2 separate regions of the Homo sapiens genome follow, and region 2 is linked to region 1. Evidence: fine-mapped expression QTL. Tissue or cell type: whole blood. Region 1 holds a variant in brackets; the other region holds the start of a gene. All regions are shown on one strand. Distances are between the middles of the regions.

Region 1 (8,105 bases):
GAACTCCTGACTGCAGGTGATCCGCCTGCCTCGGCCTCCCAAAGTGCTGGGATTATAGGTGTGAGCCACCATGCCTGGCCTCACTCTATTTTTAAAAGTTCCCTGCATTTTAAGTATATTATTCCAATAAAGTGTTTTTCGAAAAAAAAAACCAACAATAACAATATGCTATTAATAGATACAAATACTGTACTGTGTCAGCAAGTAAACAAAGTACTTTTTAATATTTCATTCACTGAAACACAGCCTCAGGCCCCAGAGTGTGGTTGGTAAACACTATAGCAGATAAATGTGGCTTGCAGGTATTAAAAAAAAAAAAAAAAAAAAGGCTAGGTTGGGTGGCTCATGCCTCACCTCTAATCTGAGCACTTTGGGAGGCTGAGATGGGAGAATCATTTGAGCCCAGGAAACCAGCCTGGGCAACACAGGGAGACTCGTCTCTACATAAAAAAAAAAAAAAAATTAGCTGGGCGTGGTGGCATGCACCTGCAATCCCAGCTACTTGGGAGGCTGAGGTGGAAGGACTGCTTGAGGTGGGAGGTTGAGGCTGCAGTGAGCTGTGATTGAGCCTACTGTACTCTAGTTTGGGCAACAACAACAACAAAAAAACAAAAACAAGTCAGGCCTGGTGGCTCATGCCTGTAATCCCAGTACTTAGGGAGGCTGAGGCACCCAGATCATTTGAGCCCAGAAGTTTGAGACCAGCCTGGGCAACATGGCAAAATTCCGTCCCTACAAAAAAATTCAAAAATTTAGCCAGGCGTGGTGGTACATACATGTAGTCTCAGCTACTTACTCAGGAGGCTGAGGTGGGAGGATCACCCAAGCCTGGGAGGTTGTGGCTGCAGTGAGCCATATCGCTCCACTGCACTCCAGAATGGGAGAGAGAGTGAGACACTATCTCAAACAAAACAAAACAAAACAAAAAAGTCTGCTCTTTTTAGAACAAGATTTGGGCTTACCAAGAGTCCAAAAAGCAAAATATTAAATAACTGACTTTGAATGTATGTTTAATAAGAAAAAGTCTCTTAGGATCCCTTTTTCCCAGTGCCACTGGCTTGTGGTCCTTATCAGTACATCATCTTGAAAATGAAGAGCACAGCTCTGTATGTATGCTTTTCAACACAGCCAAGAGAGCAGGCATAGGAGGCATTACACCAGAGAACAAGAACCATCAGTGCAGGTTTTTCCAAATCAAGAACTCATATGCTGAGGCAGTTGTTGTTGCCTTTTTACTTTGGTTCCTTCTCTCTATCCTGTTACACATAGGCGTATCAACCTGGGCCTCTCAGGCTTTTCCCAGCTTTAGGAGACGTTATAGACTTTAGGTCCTCTAGCTGACGAGGCATAAGGTGAGAATCTCTCATCGACAATAAATTGGGTTCCTAGAGCTATTGTTAGCTGGCTCTGAATCCTGGAACAATCTTTCCAAATAAACCTCTGTTCATTAACAATTGGTGTAGCCTATTATCTTCTGGTTGATTTTATTTAGACTTTTACTGATGTTACAAAATGTGATCAATAAATTGACAAATTGTATCTGGTATTTGACATGAGACCTGAAACATATGTTAAAGTTGTACAAAAAGAGGAGGTGCTACACTAGTTTCCTCAAAGCACACAGAGGTAGGATTGCTGGTGTGCTCAAAAGGCAATGTAATTTCCTAACTTAAGCTGTCTATTCCATGTAGTTACTATAGAAGAGCTATAGCATCTAGAATTTTCTTAGTGTCATTTACAGAGAATCAAGAAATATTGTCAGTGGGTACGGAAGCCTTAATGGAGACACTTAATAAGCTAGGGATATTTTAGAAGGAAATGAACAAAGTCTTTATGAGTCCATTTTTTCTTTTCTATTTATAGTTCCTTAATAGTTTTTCATGGTAGCTGGAACCTAAAACCCAGTAGACTCTATTACTGTTCATTCTATATTCAGCAGCTTGTCAACAAGTAAGCAAGCTGCACTTTTTAAACTTGGAGGAATAAAGTTTTTTTTGTTTTTGTTTGTACTCCTGGGCTCAAGCAATCCTCCCACTTCAGCCTCCTGAGTAGCTAGAACTACAGGTGTGTGCCACTATGCCTGACTAACTTTTCTATTTTTTGTAGAAATGGAGTCTCACCATGTGGCCCAGCTGGTCTGAACCCCTGGGCTCAAGCAATCCTTCTACTTCAGCCTCCCAAAGTGCTGGGATTACAGGTGTGAGCCACTGTGCCCGGCCAGAATAGTTTTACTAATTCACTTTTTACAAGTATATATTACGCTGAAATTGTTTTCCCAAAGATACAGTACAAATACATGTCAGTGGCTCTATTTTTATCTTCTTAAATAGTTCCCAGAAACCTTTTATATATAGTAGACCACCATATGCCTATGTAGAGTTTAAACATTTTAAAGTTTTTGGAAATATATAATTTGTTGTAAAAAATCTCATTTTACACTAAATTTAAATTATTATACATCTAGGTAGTACATTGTTCACCTGGAAAAATATACAAATGTTTATGCATTGAAAATAGATTTTAAGCCACATAAATTTAAAGGTCAGAGAATACTGTGAATAGACAGCAATACCTCATATATATAAAGCCTGAAGCCATAGCAGCTCCATGGCCATCCATATTACACCTATAAGGACCCCTCAGGCCTTCACTAAGAGATTATTTATTTTTAAGAAAGCAAGTGAAAATATTGTTTTTCTGATTATAAAAGTCATACCCAATAACTGCAGAAAATGTGGAAAAAGGGAAACAGTAAAATTACAAATAAATAGAAAACATACACAGTCCCATTAAAAATAATAATGAGGGCTGGGCATGGTGACTCATGCCTGTAATCCCAGTGCTTTGGGAGGCCGAGGCGGGCAGATCACAAGGTCAGGAGATCGAGACCATCCTGGCTAACATGGTGAAAACCTGTCTCTACTAAAAATACAAAAAAAAAAATTAGCTGGGGGTGGTGGCGGGTGCCTGTAGTCCCAGCTACTCGGGAGGCTGAGGCAGGAGAATGGCATGAACTCGGGAGGTGGAGCTTGCAGTGAGCCGAGATCGGGCCACTGAACTCCAGCCTGGGTGACAGAACGAGTTCGTTTCAAAAAAAAACAAAAACAAAAACAAAAATAAATAAATAAAAAATAAAAATAAAATAATAATAATCAGGCCAGGCGTAATGGCTTGCACCTGTAATCCCAGCACTTTGGGAGGCCGAGGCTGGTGGATCACTTGAGGTCAGGAGTTCGAGACCAGCCTGGCCAACATGGTGAAACCCCATCTCTACTAAAAATACAAAAATTAGCCAGGTGTGGTGGTGTGTGCCTGCAATCCTAGCTATTCGGTTGGCTAAGGGATGAGAATTGCTTGAATCCGGGAGGTGGAGGTTGTGTTGAGCTGAGATTGTGCCACTGTATTCCAGCCTGGGTAACAGAGTAAGACTCTGTATCAAAAAATAAAATAAAATAAAAAATCAATACTATTTAACATAGTGGGGAAGCCCTAACAAGAGTAACAAGACTAAAAAAAATTTAA[G/C]AATTGTAAAGGGAGGCTGGGTGCAGTAGTTTGTGCCTGTAATTCCAGCACTTTGGGAGGCTAAGGTGGGCAGGTCGCTTAAGCCCAAGAGTTCAAGACCAGCCTGGGTAAGAAATTGAAACCTCGGCTCTACAAAAAATACAGAAATTATCTGGGCATGGTGGCACATGACTGTAGTCCCAGCTACTTGGGAGGCTGAGGTGGGAGGATTGCTTGAGCCCAGAAGGATGAGGCTGTAGTGAGCTGTGAACATGCCACTGTACTCATTCTATCCTGGGCAACAGTGCGAGATCTTCACACACACACACACACACACACACACACACACACACACCCCACACATACACAGGAATTGTAAAAGAAGAAATAAATTTGTCAATATTTTCATTGAGAGCAGCTTTGTATATAGAATATACATACATATATACATATACATATATACACACATACACACATACACACACACACACACACACACACATATATATATACAAGAGCAACAGTTTTAAAAATGTAATTTGGTAAAAATACAAAAGCGATGCAAGTTATGCCAGCCTCTAATAAAGAAAACTATAGAACTTTATGGAAAGATATTACAAAGGACCTAAATGGAGAGATATGCTGGGTTATTGGAGAAGAAGATAACATTCAATACAAATTCAATCACAGTCTCAACAATGTTTTTGGGAACCTGATAAGTTGATTCTAAAATTTATATGAAAAAGCAAAGGATCAAGAACAGGCATATACACTTACTGAAGTAAAAATGATAGGAGAGACTAGTCTTACCAGATTAAATACTTCTAAAAATCTATAATAATAAATGCAGTGTTTGTTGGCATAGCTATAAATAAATAGAGAAAAGGTGGAAACTTGAGCTACAACAGAGTTGCCATTGCAAATTCATGGGGAAAAGATGGCTTCTTAGAAAAGTAGTGTTTAGGCAACTAGTTTTCAATTTGGAAAAATAACATTACCTCACTCTATATTAAAAAAAAAAAGAATTCCAGGTCTATCAATGAGTTAAATGTAAATGGAAAAATAGTAAGACTTTTAGAAGAAAATAAAAAATATCTTTATGTCCTAGAGGTAGAAAATATTTCTTAAATAAGACACACAAAAAGCAGAAACCAGAAAGTGAAAGATTAAACTGTGCTAAAATGAAAACTTCTGGCTGGGCACAGCAGCTCATGCCTGTAATCCCAGCACTTTGTGAGGTTGAGGCAGGAGAATTGCTTGAGCCCAGGAGTTTGAGACCAACCCTGGCAACACAGCAAGACCCTGTATCTACAAAAAATAGAAAAATTAGCTGGGCATGGTGGTGTAAACCTTTAGTCCTAGCTACTCGGGAGGCTAAGGTAGTGGGGACTGCTTGAGCCCAGGAGTTTGAGGCTGCAGTGAGCTATGATTGTGCCACTGTACTCTAGCCTGGACTACAGAGGGAGACCCTGTCTCAAAAAACAAACAAACAAAAAACCCCAAAACCCCCAAACCTTCTGTTTTGCATATGATACCTTTAAAGAGAGGAAATTAAATAAATAAGTTTCTTTTTCTTTTTTTTTTGGGGTAGAGATGGGGCCTCACTAGGTTGCCCAGGCTGGTCTCCAACTTCTGGCCTCAAGTGATCCTCCCACCTCAGCCTCCCAAGGTTTTCAGATTACAGGCATGAGCTACCACACTGGCCTGATCCTGACTTTATAATTTCTACTTGTGTTTCCTTCCATTTTTAGTCTTTAGTCAGATCCAAGAAGTACATTTAGAAACATGTTTAGTCAAAATAGTAAAAAAAAAAAAAAAAAAAAAAAATGTGTTTGAAAAAAGTTAAGTTTCTAGAGTTGGGATGACTTTTTTCCTGTTTGTTTTTCTTATGTTTTAAATATTCTATAATAAGCTACATTACACTTTTCAAATCAGATCTAAGTCAATAAACCTTTTTAAAAAACATGGGAACTTTAAATTATTCAGAAAAATGGTTATTAAGAGCAACCATTCAAGAGTTTCAGCTAAGTGATGTGTTATTTTAATAGTTTCCCACTCATGCCTTTGGAGTGAGTTAGTAATTGTAGCCACTGGATGAATTTTCCACAAGGTAAATCAGTACAAGTATCAGTATAAGTAGAATAAAATTGGTCACTCTTCTTAGAAGATTCCTCAAGCACATAAAAATCATCACTATTTCCTGTATTTTACTCTTAGGCTTAGGGAAACACAGGCAATTTTAGAGAAGGCAATTTAGAAAGTTTCTGAGGGAACCTTAGCACAACCTTTCTTTCCCAAATGAAACTTCCTCTTACAGAAGCTATATACCAAGTAAATCAGTACGCATCTTTTGAAACGGAAATTCAAGGACTAATACTTCCCTCACAGGGAATGCCGGGGGGATTCCTAACAGAATTAAGAAGGATAATCATACTTAGAGTAGCTATCACGTGATAGCAATGAAAACAAGTATTTTGGTAAAAACTGTGAGGTCACTGGCCACAGGACACAAGTCTAAGCCATAGCACCTTAAGGCAGTGAAATTGATGACACTGGGAAACACAGACCATCATACACACCCAAGATGTCAGTAGAATAAGATGGATCGAAGAAAGGTTTTCCCACTTGGGTTTAAAAAAATTAGACTTTATATTTTTGGGCAGTTTTAGGTTTACAAAACAATGAAGCAGAAAATACAGAGAGTTCCCAAATCTTCCCTCATCCCCTTACTCCCCAGTTCCACCTATGATTAACCTGTTACATTAGTTAGTGGGTGTATTTGTTACAATCGATGAGCCATTATTGACATATTATCATTAAATAATATCTATAGTTTACATTAGGGCTTACACTTTGTGTTGTATATTCTGTGGGATTTGACAAATATAATAATATACACCATTAAAGTATCACACAAAACAGTTTTGCTGCTCTAAAAATCCTCAGTGCTCTCTACCTATTCATCCCTCTCTCCTTGCGCCACAGCTCCAGCCCATGGTAGCTACTGACTTTTTTACAGTCTCCATAGTTTTGCCTTTTCTAGAATGTGATATACAGTCTTGAGTTGCTTAACAACGGGGATATATTCTGAGAAATGGATCACTAGGTGATTGTGTCATTGTGAAAACATCAGAGTGTACTTACAGAAACCTAGATGGTATAGCCTATTGTTCCCAGGCTACAATCCTGTATAGCCTGTTATTCTATTGAATTTTAGGTAATTGTAACAAAATGTTAAGTACCTATGTATCTATACATATCTAAACATAGAAAAGGTACAGTAAAAATAAGGTTTTATAATCTTATGAGACCACTGCCATATATGTGGTCTGTCAATGACCAAAATGTTATGTGGTGCATGACTGTAGTTAGAATCACACAGTATGTAGCCTTTAAGACTGCCTTCTTTCATTTAGCAACATGCATTTAAGGTTCCCTCATGTCTTTTCTTGGCTTAATAGCTCATTTCTTTCCTTCTTTCTTTTTTTTATTTTTGAGACAGAGTTTTGCTCTTGTTGCCCAGGCTGGAGAGCAATGGCACGATCTCAGCTCACTGCAACCTTCGCCTCCTGGGTTTAAGCAATTCTCCTGCCTCAGTCTCCCAAGTAGCTGGGATTATAGGCGCCTGCCACCATGCCCAGCTAATTTTTGTATTTTTAGTAGAGACAGGGTTTCACCATGTTGGCCAGGCTGGTCTTGAACTCCTGGCCTCAAGTGATCTGCCCGCCTTTGCCTCTCAAAATGCTGGGATTACGGGTGTGAGCCACCATGCCCAGCTGATAGCTCATTACTTTTTGTTGGCTGAATCATATTTTATTGTATCGATAATGTTTATCCATTCACCTAGTGAAAGATATGTAGCTACTTCCAAGTTTTGTCAATTATGAATAAAACTGCTATAAACATATGCATGCAGGTTTTTGTGAAGACGTAAGTTTTTAAATCATTTGGGCAACGAAGGAGCCTGATCGCTAGATCATATGGTAAAAGTATGTTTAGTTTTGTAAGAGATTGCCAAATTGTCTTCCAAAGTGGTTGTTTACCATTTTGCATTTTTTACCAGCAATAAATGAGAGTTCCCAGTGCTACACATCCTCACCCCATAGGCCACACATATAACCTCAGGATGTTGGAAAATGAGATGAGTGAAATATTTTTCAATTAAAAAAAATTCTTAGTATTTACTTAAAAGAAAAACCTCCCCAAATAAAAGGAACTGTTTAAAATTACATGCATTATATCCCAAACTCATTGATCTGTTGCGTGCTTTGTCAACTTACTTTGTTGTATGTTTATGGTCTTCAGAAGACACTGTGACAAGCCATGGAGAATTTACCTCAGACTCGTTTGGTATTCTCCATGGCTCTGGCTCAGATCCTTAAGGACTGGGTGCAATGATCTAATTAACCATTTGCATTCCTGATTGTAATAATTCTATGATTTCCCTGCTGCCTCCATCCCTCACCCCACCCTTGCTCACTCACTTAAGTTACCAATGTTCTTTATCCATGAGTAATATCAAACTTCACACTGTATAGTAGTGACAAGCTAATTACATAGTTATTTAGAGATAATATGGGAGTAGTAACATAAGTTATCATGTA
Region 2 (8,091 bases), 540 kb after region 1:
TCAGAAAGTCACTCAGAAGCACATACTCAGCAGACAGTAAAAATTAAGGTCTGGGAAGGCAGGGCACGGTGGCTCACACCTGTAATCCCAACACTTTGGGAGGCTGAGGCAGGTGGATCGCTTGAGGTCAGAAGTTCAAGACCAGCCTAGCCAACATGGCAAAATCCCGTCTCTACTAAAAATACAAAAATTAGCCAGGCATAGTGGTGTACGCCTGTAATCCCAGCTACTTGGGAGGCGGAGGCAGCAGAATTGCTTGAACCCAGGAGGCAGAGGTTGCAGTGAGCCGAGATGGTGCCACTGCACTCCAACCTGTGCGCCAGAGTGAGACTCCAACTCAAAAATATATACAAAATTAAATTAAATTAAGATCTGAGAACTGAGAGGCACAGAGATAGAAAGGACACATGTGAGAGTGTCTAATACAAAGCCTGGACCCCATACATCTCTGCTTCAGTCAGACTATCTGCACTTCCCCAAGAGGCAGCTCTCTCCCAGTTCTGCCACCAAACAAACTTTCCTATAAGGCAGATACCCTACTTCACAGATACCCTACAGTCACAGATGACTGGTTAACTCCTAGTCATCTTTAAGAATACTCAGGTGTCATTTTCCCAAACCCCACTTATTTCCCACCAAGAGGATGGTACCTGTGCCTTACCTCTTTCTCTCTCTATATATATCCAGTTTTTAACACCATGTCTAAAATAGCATGTACTTGAAAGACAAACTGAAGGAAAAGACTTGGCACGTGCTCAACAAGCCTTGGAAGGCACTGTAGCCTCTTAAGAGGCGATCGCTAAAGAAATGAACTTGGATGAGATTTCCAAAGGAGAGAAAAGAAAACTAAGTTGTCTTAAATATAAGTGATCATCATGGAACACCTTCATCTAGGGAGCAGTTCCCAAAAATGTTTCTCCACTTCTTTCATCACAAAATAGCTCGTCTGTAACACAGGAATCATTGCTCCTACCTCATAGGTCACTGGGAGGGTTAAAAGAGATAACATATATAGAGCACATAGTATAATGTCTAGCACTCAATTAACGTTCCCTTCTTTCCCCTAATCCCACGTGAAAACATGTCAGAGCCTGATTCTTTCTTTATAAGCAACTGTTATATGCTGAAAAGCAACCGAGCCTAGAAAAATAATAGATATTTGAGAAAGGCAGACTAGTCTTGTCAGATGCTCCCTCTAGAACAGATTTCTCAACCTCAACACCGTTGACGTATTTGGCCAGATAATTCTTTGTTGTGGGGGTTGTCCTATGTAGCATGTTTAGCAGCACCCCTGAATTCCATCCACTAGGTGCCAATAGCTCTCCCTACCAAAAATATCTTTCTAGACCACGCCAAATGTCCCCTGGAGGGCAAAATTTCCCCTGGTGGAGAATTATTATCCCAGAGCTGACCAAATTCTCACAAATCCCTAAATCTAAATATTTTTCCTGACATCTACAAATATATCTCATTATTTGTTCCCACTGATGCTGCACATTAAATTATGCAAAGTCTTTATAATCCATTCTCCTTAACCAAAACCAGTAGCAATCCCCTGTCAAGCAAGTCATCATAAATTCAGTGTAAATACTCAATGCATTATCACACTTTGAGTCTGAAAGCAAATTAATATAATAAAAGTAATAATAGCCGATCCTAAAATGTCTCCCCACAAAATTAGAGATTTGTCCCAGTACTCAAGTGTCTAATCTTTTAACTTCATGTCTACAGGTGGCACTAAATTCATATTGTATAAAGTGAATTTTAGTTGCCTAAGGAATGCTCTCACCACAGCCTCACAAAGCACCAGGACTGCAGGTATAAGAAAACATGCTCAGCTAGTTCCTATTTCTGTTCCTGTACTAATTGTTTTATTTGGGCTTCAATATCTTCAATTGTAAAATAGGCATAATTCTTGCCTTCCTTTGATCACAGAACTGTCCAACAAGATAATAAATAGGAAAACACAGTGAAAATGGATCAGCATTATATATAATAATTTTTATTAAGGAAAAATCTAAGGAAATCTAAGGGTTATATGTTCAGTAGGATGGTAGGGAAAAGTTGCATCTGTCTTCCAGTTTGGCGAAGGAGGTGCCTTATAAGGAAATACTCTAATAAAGGGCAGAGTAGGGAAAGCACATGCCTTGAACTCAGGTAGGTCTGATTCAAAAGCCGTTGCTTTTTATTCTGCATATAGTTGGAATATTTAAAATAAAAATAGAATATCCTGAGGGTTTTTATTTTAAAGTTTATGTTCTTGGTATAAGGTAGGCACACTAACCCTTTGAGGGTAGTAGGAATACATTAAAGGAACTGGCAAGGATTTGTTCACCCTCCATTCAAAGCAGCATGAACACACCACCAGGCCCCTAAGTGTCCTTTTCTTTTCAATTGTGAGTGATTCCTTCCTTTGGAGGTGAAGAAGAGTGATACTGGAAGAAATGGGATATGTCCTGTTTAATCAGGAGTGTCCTAATAGTTTTAAATCAGTTTGATATGTCTATTTTAAGATGGAAAAAAAAATCGCTGCCTTTCAGCGAACATTTCCAAATCATCAAAGACTGCCTGCTTCACTTTATACTTATTAGGAAGGGATATTTTAACAAATGACTCTTCATAAGTAAAAGTTGCAACATCAATCACATGTGAGGCAGGTGTTAGGGGCAGCACTGTCCCCGTTGCTGCCAAAAAGTGTAAATAAAAAAGAGAAATCAACCTTTCCTATCCATTCATCCAAATGCTGCCCCTGCAAAGCATCGGAGGGGTCTGGGTCCCTGGTAGAGGGTCCTCAAAGGTACGGGCTTTCAGAATGTGCACGAAAAGGAAGGTCAACGTGCCCTTCCGCAACACTCTGAAAAATCCCCAAGAATTCTGACTTTGCCCCAGTGTACAGCAGTTGCCGAGCCTCTTTCCCGCCATCCCCCGGGAAGAGAAGGCGGCCGCCTACAGACGCTGCTCCGGTCCGACCCTCCGGGGTCGCACCAGCCCAGCCTGGGCTTGCTCGCAGGTGGCGCGGTCAGCCAGCTCGGTCCCCCTGCGGGCCACGACTGGCGAAGGGCTGCTGGAGCCGGAGCTGCACCAGACAGGCGGGGACTCAGCCAAACGGAGAGAACGTCTGGCAAGGGGTCGCGGCCAAGCGGGCAGCTGGGGGAGGTCCTGCGTGTTGGCCCCAAGCTGGCAGTGAGAGACACCACCCAGCGTCGGGGCCGTGCAACCCCACGTGGGCCCTGGCTTGCTTGCAGCGCCGTCACCCTCCTCCCCAAGTCCGGCAGCGCTCACCTCAGCGCTTGCGGCGCCTCCACCTTCAGCTTTTTGGGCTTCGGCTCCTCCTCAGCAGCTGCCATCTTCGCGCTCCCACCCCACTTTGGCTCTACAGCCCACCTCTGCCATCCACTCTCTGGTCCCGCCCCCTCTTCGCATCACCGCTTTCTCTTCTCCAAATCCCGCCCCTCCAGACTCCGCCCATTCTGTGCCGCTGTCATCCACAATCATTGGCTCTATCCGTCGGCACCAACAGCGAATGCCCCGCCCATTCCTGACCCCGCCTCCCCTACCATGAGGGACCCCAGACTGCGTTAGGCAGCAGATGACCGCCTGAATCTAGATGGAGAGAAACCCACCATTTTTCTAGGCCCTGGATTATGTAGAAGATTTAGATACTAAGCCTCAAGAGACGTCTTTCCTCTCATTTACGGTCTTCCTGCATATTTAAAATTTCTAATACGGTAGACAGAGTCGGTGTCTTTGAAGCTGTTAATCAGGCAATTTCCTGGGCACTCCAGCTGCGGGTCCTCGCGGCCTTCTCGGCTTCTCCAGCTTCGGTAGGAGAGGATCCGGCGCCGAATCACTGACTGGCACAGGTGTTGGGGTGAGTGTGAGGGGCGGGAAATCTGTGGACTGGGGACAGCTCCAAAACCCGGGAGTAGGCTGAATAGCTGGGGCCCCCGACTCCGATCTGGGCTCTAGGAGCGTCTTTGGTGCTGTTGGCCCGGGCCTCGCTTCCCCCCCACTCCCGGCCTTCCGGGCTTTCTCGCCAGCAAGGCCAGAAGGGAGCGGTCCACCTGCAGCCCAGTGTTCTCAGGCGCCTGAGCCCCGGAGGTCAAGCTTACTGGGTTCCCCCTCTATAGTGAGCTGGAGTACAGACGGCAGGAATCTCAGTCCCAGGTTTCTGCTTTGGAGGACAAAACCCCAAACGGACCTGAGCAGACGTCCTGTTAGCGGGTGGTGCCTGGAAGAGCCTGGGGTGAGGAATGCAGTGAGAAGGGTGTTGCAGTTCTTCAGGAGAGAGGTAACGGGGTTCTAAGCTGAGCAGGTGGCAGTGAGTGTGGAAGAGTGACGGGCGATGTGGCTGTTTGTATTTGGTAGATTTGTTTGAACCTGAAACTTACAGCCTTATGTGTGATTAAGAAGATGGTGCCAGTGACAGGAGGAGGTATTTTATGGAGTTTGAGTTTTATCGAATTTGAAACAGTGGTTTACATGGAGATTGTAGAAAGACTTTAAAAAAAATTATGAGAATTAAGCCCGAAAGACTTTCAAGGTGAGACCCAAAACAGATGAAGTTTCATATAAAAGGGTAAGAAGTATTTTTGTTTAGGAGAAAGTTATCAATGACATAAAATGCTGCAATGGTCAGAGGAGGAAGCTGAAATCAGAATAGGTCGTTGGATTTTATAATTAGAAAGTCATTGAGCTGTTTGAGAGAGATGCTTTAATAGTAACTGAGGAAAGACTGCAAGTGTAGACCAATCCTTCATCATTTGGGGCATGAAGCAAGATTATTGAGAGTGGCAAGGTGGGGGAAAGTTTGGGGTTTGTTTTAAAGAATACAAGATATCTATTTGGGGGCAGGAAGCAAGCAACTATTTGAAGATTCAAGAAAAAGTCTTGTCTCCCAGAAGAGAAGGAAAGGAATGGGATCAAGTTACAAGTGAAAGGATTAATTTGGGAAAGACAGAGGGACACTTTCAATTGACACTATAGGAGAAGTGAAGTGAATGAGGTTAATGAAGAATTATCTTAATTTACGAATCTTGGCCAGGCGCGGTGGCTCACGCCTGTAATCTCAGCACTTTGGCAGGCTGAAGCGGGCGGATCACAAAGTCAGGAGTTCGAGACCAACCTGGCCAACATAGTGAAACCCTGTCTCTACTAAAAATACAAAAATTAGCCAGGTGTGGTGGCACACGCCTGTAGTCCCAGCTACTTGGTAGGCTGAGGCAGGAGAATCCCTTGAACCCGGGAGGCGGAAGTTGCAGTAAGCTGAGACCTCACCACTGCACTCCACCCTGAGCGACAGAGCGAGACTCTGCCTCGAAAAAAAAAAAAAAAAAAAAAAAAAAAAAAAAAAAAAAACCTTACGTATCTTTAGGAAAGCTCTCTTTGCAACAAGATTATATTTTCTTACTTAATCTTATGATTTTTATTTCTAACCATTTAATATAATATACGGCCAGGCACGGTAGGGCTCATGCCTGTAATCCCAGCACTTTGAGAGGCTGAGGTGGGTGGATCACGAGGTCAAGAGATCGAGACCATCCTGGCAAATATGGAGAAACCCCGTCACTACTAAAAATATAAAAATTATCTGGGCGTGGTGGCACGTGCCTGTAGTCCCAGCTACTCGGGAGGTTGAGGCAGGAGAATCGCTTGAACCCAGGAAGCGGAGGTTGTGGTAAGCTGAGATTGCGCCACTGCACTCCAGCCTGGCAATAGAGTAAGACTCCGTCTCAAAAAAAAAAAAAACAAACCAATATACTATGGGCAGATGGAGTGCGGTGGCTCACGCCTGTAATCCTAGCACTTTGGGTGGGTGAGGCGGGAAAATCACTTGAGGCCAGGAGCTGGAAATCAGCCTGGGCAACATAGCGAGACTCCATCTCTACAAAAAATTTAAACATTAGCCAGGCTTTGTGGCATGTGGTTGTAGTCCTAGCTACTCAGGAGGTAGAGGCAGAATGAGGCAGAAGGATCACTTGAGCCCAGGAGTTCAAAGTTACAGTGAGCTATGATTGGTCCACTGCACTTCAGCCTGGGCAACAAAACAAGACCCTATCTCTTAAAAAAAAATACATATACACATACGCTATGGGAGTTCTTTGCAGATTTAAATATTTTTAAGTAGCTCAGTACTGTGTCAATTCATGAGTAGCACATGGTATTTACAGAGAAGAGGACTTCTCTCTCCCTTTGGAAATGACCTCTCTCCCATTACACAGAGAAGGAGAGCCATCATCTGCCTGCAGTCAAGTATACAAACCTTCCCTTCAATCTGAAGAGTAGAAAGTGTTCCTTCTCCTTAGAGAAGGCAAACCCTTTGACCTAGTCTCTCAGTAGCATCCTCTCCTGCTATGTCAGGGTCCTCTTTCCGTTTTTCCCTCTCTCCTATGTCAGCTTTTCCCCCTCTATTCACACCTTTCCTTCAGCATTTGAATGTATTCTTCCTTCACTTTATGAACTGCTGCATTTATTTTCCTGTCTTTTCATCCTCTTCACAGCTAGACTTCTTGAATCTACTCTACATATCTCTATTTTTTTACACTTCTTGCTATTTATTTCCCAGCCCACTGCAATGTCTTATTTCTAGCATTCCACTGAACTACCACCAAAACTATTTTTTTTTTCTGAGATGGAGTCTTGCTCTTGTCGCCCAGGCTGGAGTGCAATGGCAATCTCGGCTCACTGCAACCTCCGCCTCCAGAGTTCAAGTGATTCTTCCGCCTCAGCCTCCCGAGTAGCTGGGATTACAGGCGCCTACCACCATGCCCAGCTAACTTTTGTATTTTTAGTAGAGACAGGGTTTCGCCATGTTGGCCAGGCTGGTCTCGAACTCCTGACCTCGTGATCTGCCCGCCTCAGCCTCCCAAAGTGCTGGGATTACAGGTGTGAGCCACCGCACCCAGCCCACCAAAACTACCTTTACCAAGATCACCAGTGTCCTCTGTGTGTTAAATCATGCATTCTCAAAGCAGATAAAAACTGCTTCTTGTGAGGTGAAAAAAATATAATACTCTTTTTATGTGTAAAGCACAAATACAATACATAAACAGAGAATATTCTGTGGTATTAAAATTTTATGGTGATATTAATTAGCTTCATTTAATTATTCCACATTTCATAAATCATAACATCTGGTACCCCTAAATATATACAACTATAATTTGTCAATTTACAGTTGAAAAAGAAAGAATAATAAAAAGTTTTATGGGTGAGGAATTTGATTGGCAGGGTGGTGAGAAGATGGAGTCTAAAAGGGCTCCTTAGCAGGCATTAAGGAAAAGAAAGTTTAAAAAACACTCTTAAATCAACAGACATTTTCAATTCTTTTTTGTTGTTGTTGAGATGGAGTCTCGCTCTGTCATCCAGGCTAGAGTGCAGTGGCGCCATCTCGGCTCACTGCAGCCTCCACCTCCCGGGTTCAAGCGATTCTCCTGCCTCAGCCTCCAGAGCAGCCGGGATTACAGGCACCCACCACCACACCCAGCTAATTTGTTGGTATTTTTAGTGGAGATGGGATTTCACCATGTTGGCCAGGCTGGTCTCGAACTCCCGAGCTCAGGTGATACTCCCACTTTGGCCTCCCAAAGTGCTGGGATTATAGGTGTGAGCACCACGCCCAGCTGACATTTTCAATTCTCGTAGCTTAACCTCTTTGTGCCATGTAACAGTATTTACCACTCCATTCTTCTGGAAATACACTAATAAGCTATAGTTACTAAAAACCACCCTGTTTTTTTTTTTTTCTTAGGACTCTTCAGTCACATCTTGGTCATTCTTTAGGTCCACTTCCTTGACCCACCTCCTACTCAAATGTTGGAGTTCCTGCCATAAGCTCTCTTCATACTATGCACATTCTTTCTTTTGTTTCAATTCTCCTTTTGATTAATTCCCATTAACAAAAAATCCTGATTACTTACAATTCTGATTCCAATCTGGCTTCTCTAAAGCACCAGAAGGGTATATATAATAGTTTTTTGAATATATTTATTTGGGTCAGATGTATCCAGAATTGGTCAAATTACACAGGACCAGGCCAAGTGACACATCTCTCTCATCTCCACACACCCCCTCCTCCAAGCCTAAATGTTT

What was found. PIP is the estimated chance that this variant, and not a neighbour inherited with it, causes the effect.
Region 2: AP3M1 starts here. The variant in region 1 is fine-mapped to the expression of AP3M1 in whole blood (INTERVAL, PIP above 0.99).

Annotation. Positions count from the first base shown.
Region 1 is chr10:74,691,371-74,699,475 of GRCh38, reverse strand. All of the region lies in intron 10 of ADK (adenosine kinase), which reads right to left. Among named protein-coding and RNA genes, the nearest start is that of KAT6B, 130 kb to the left of the region's middle. The variant G/C (reference allele first, on the strand shown) is at 3,523.
Region 2 is chr10:74,146,535-74,154,625 of GRCh38, reverse strand. It overlaps AP3M1 (adaptor related protein complex 3 subunit mu 1), which reads left to right and starts at 3,798. Exons shown (of 9, transcript NM_012095.6): 1 at 3,798-3,871. ADK (adenosine kinase) reads right to left here and starts at 3,405. Exons shown (of 11, transcript NM_006721.4): 1 at 3,283-3,405. The coding sequence starts at 3,347. RefSeq lists enhancers at 3,055-3,234, 3,645-3,874.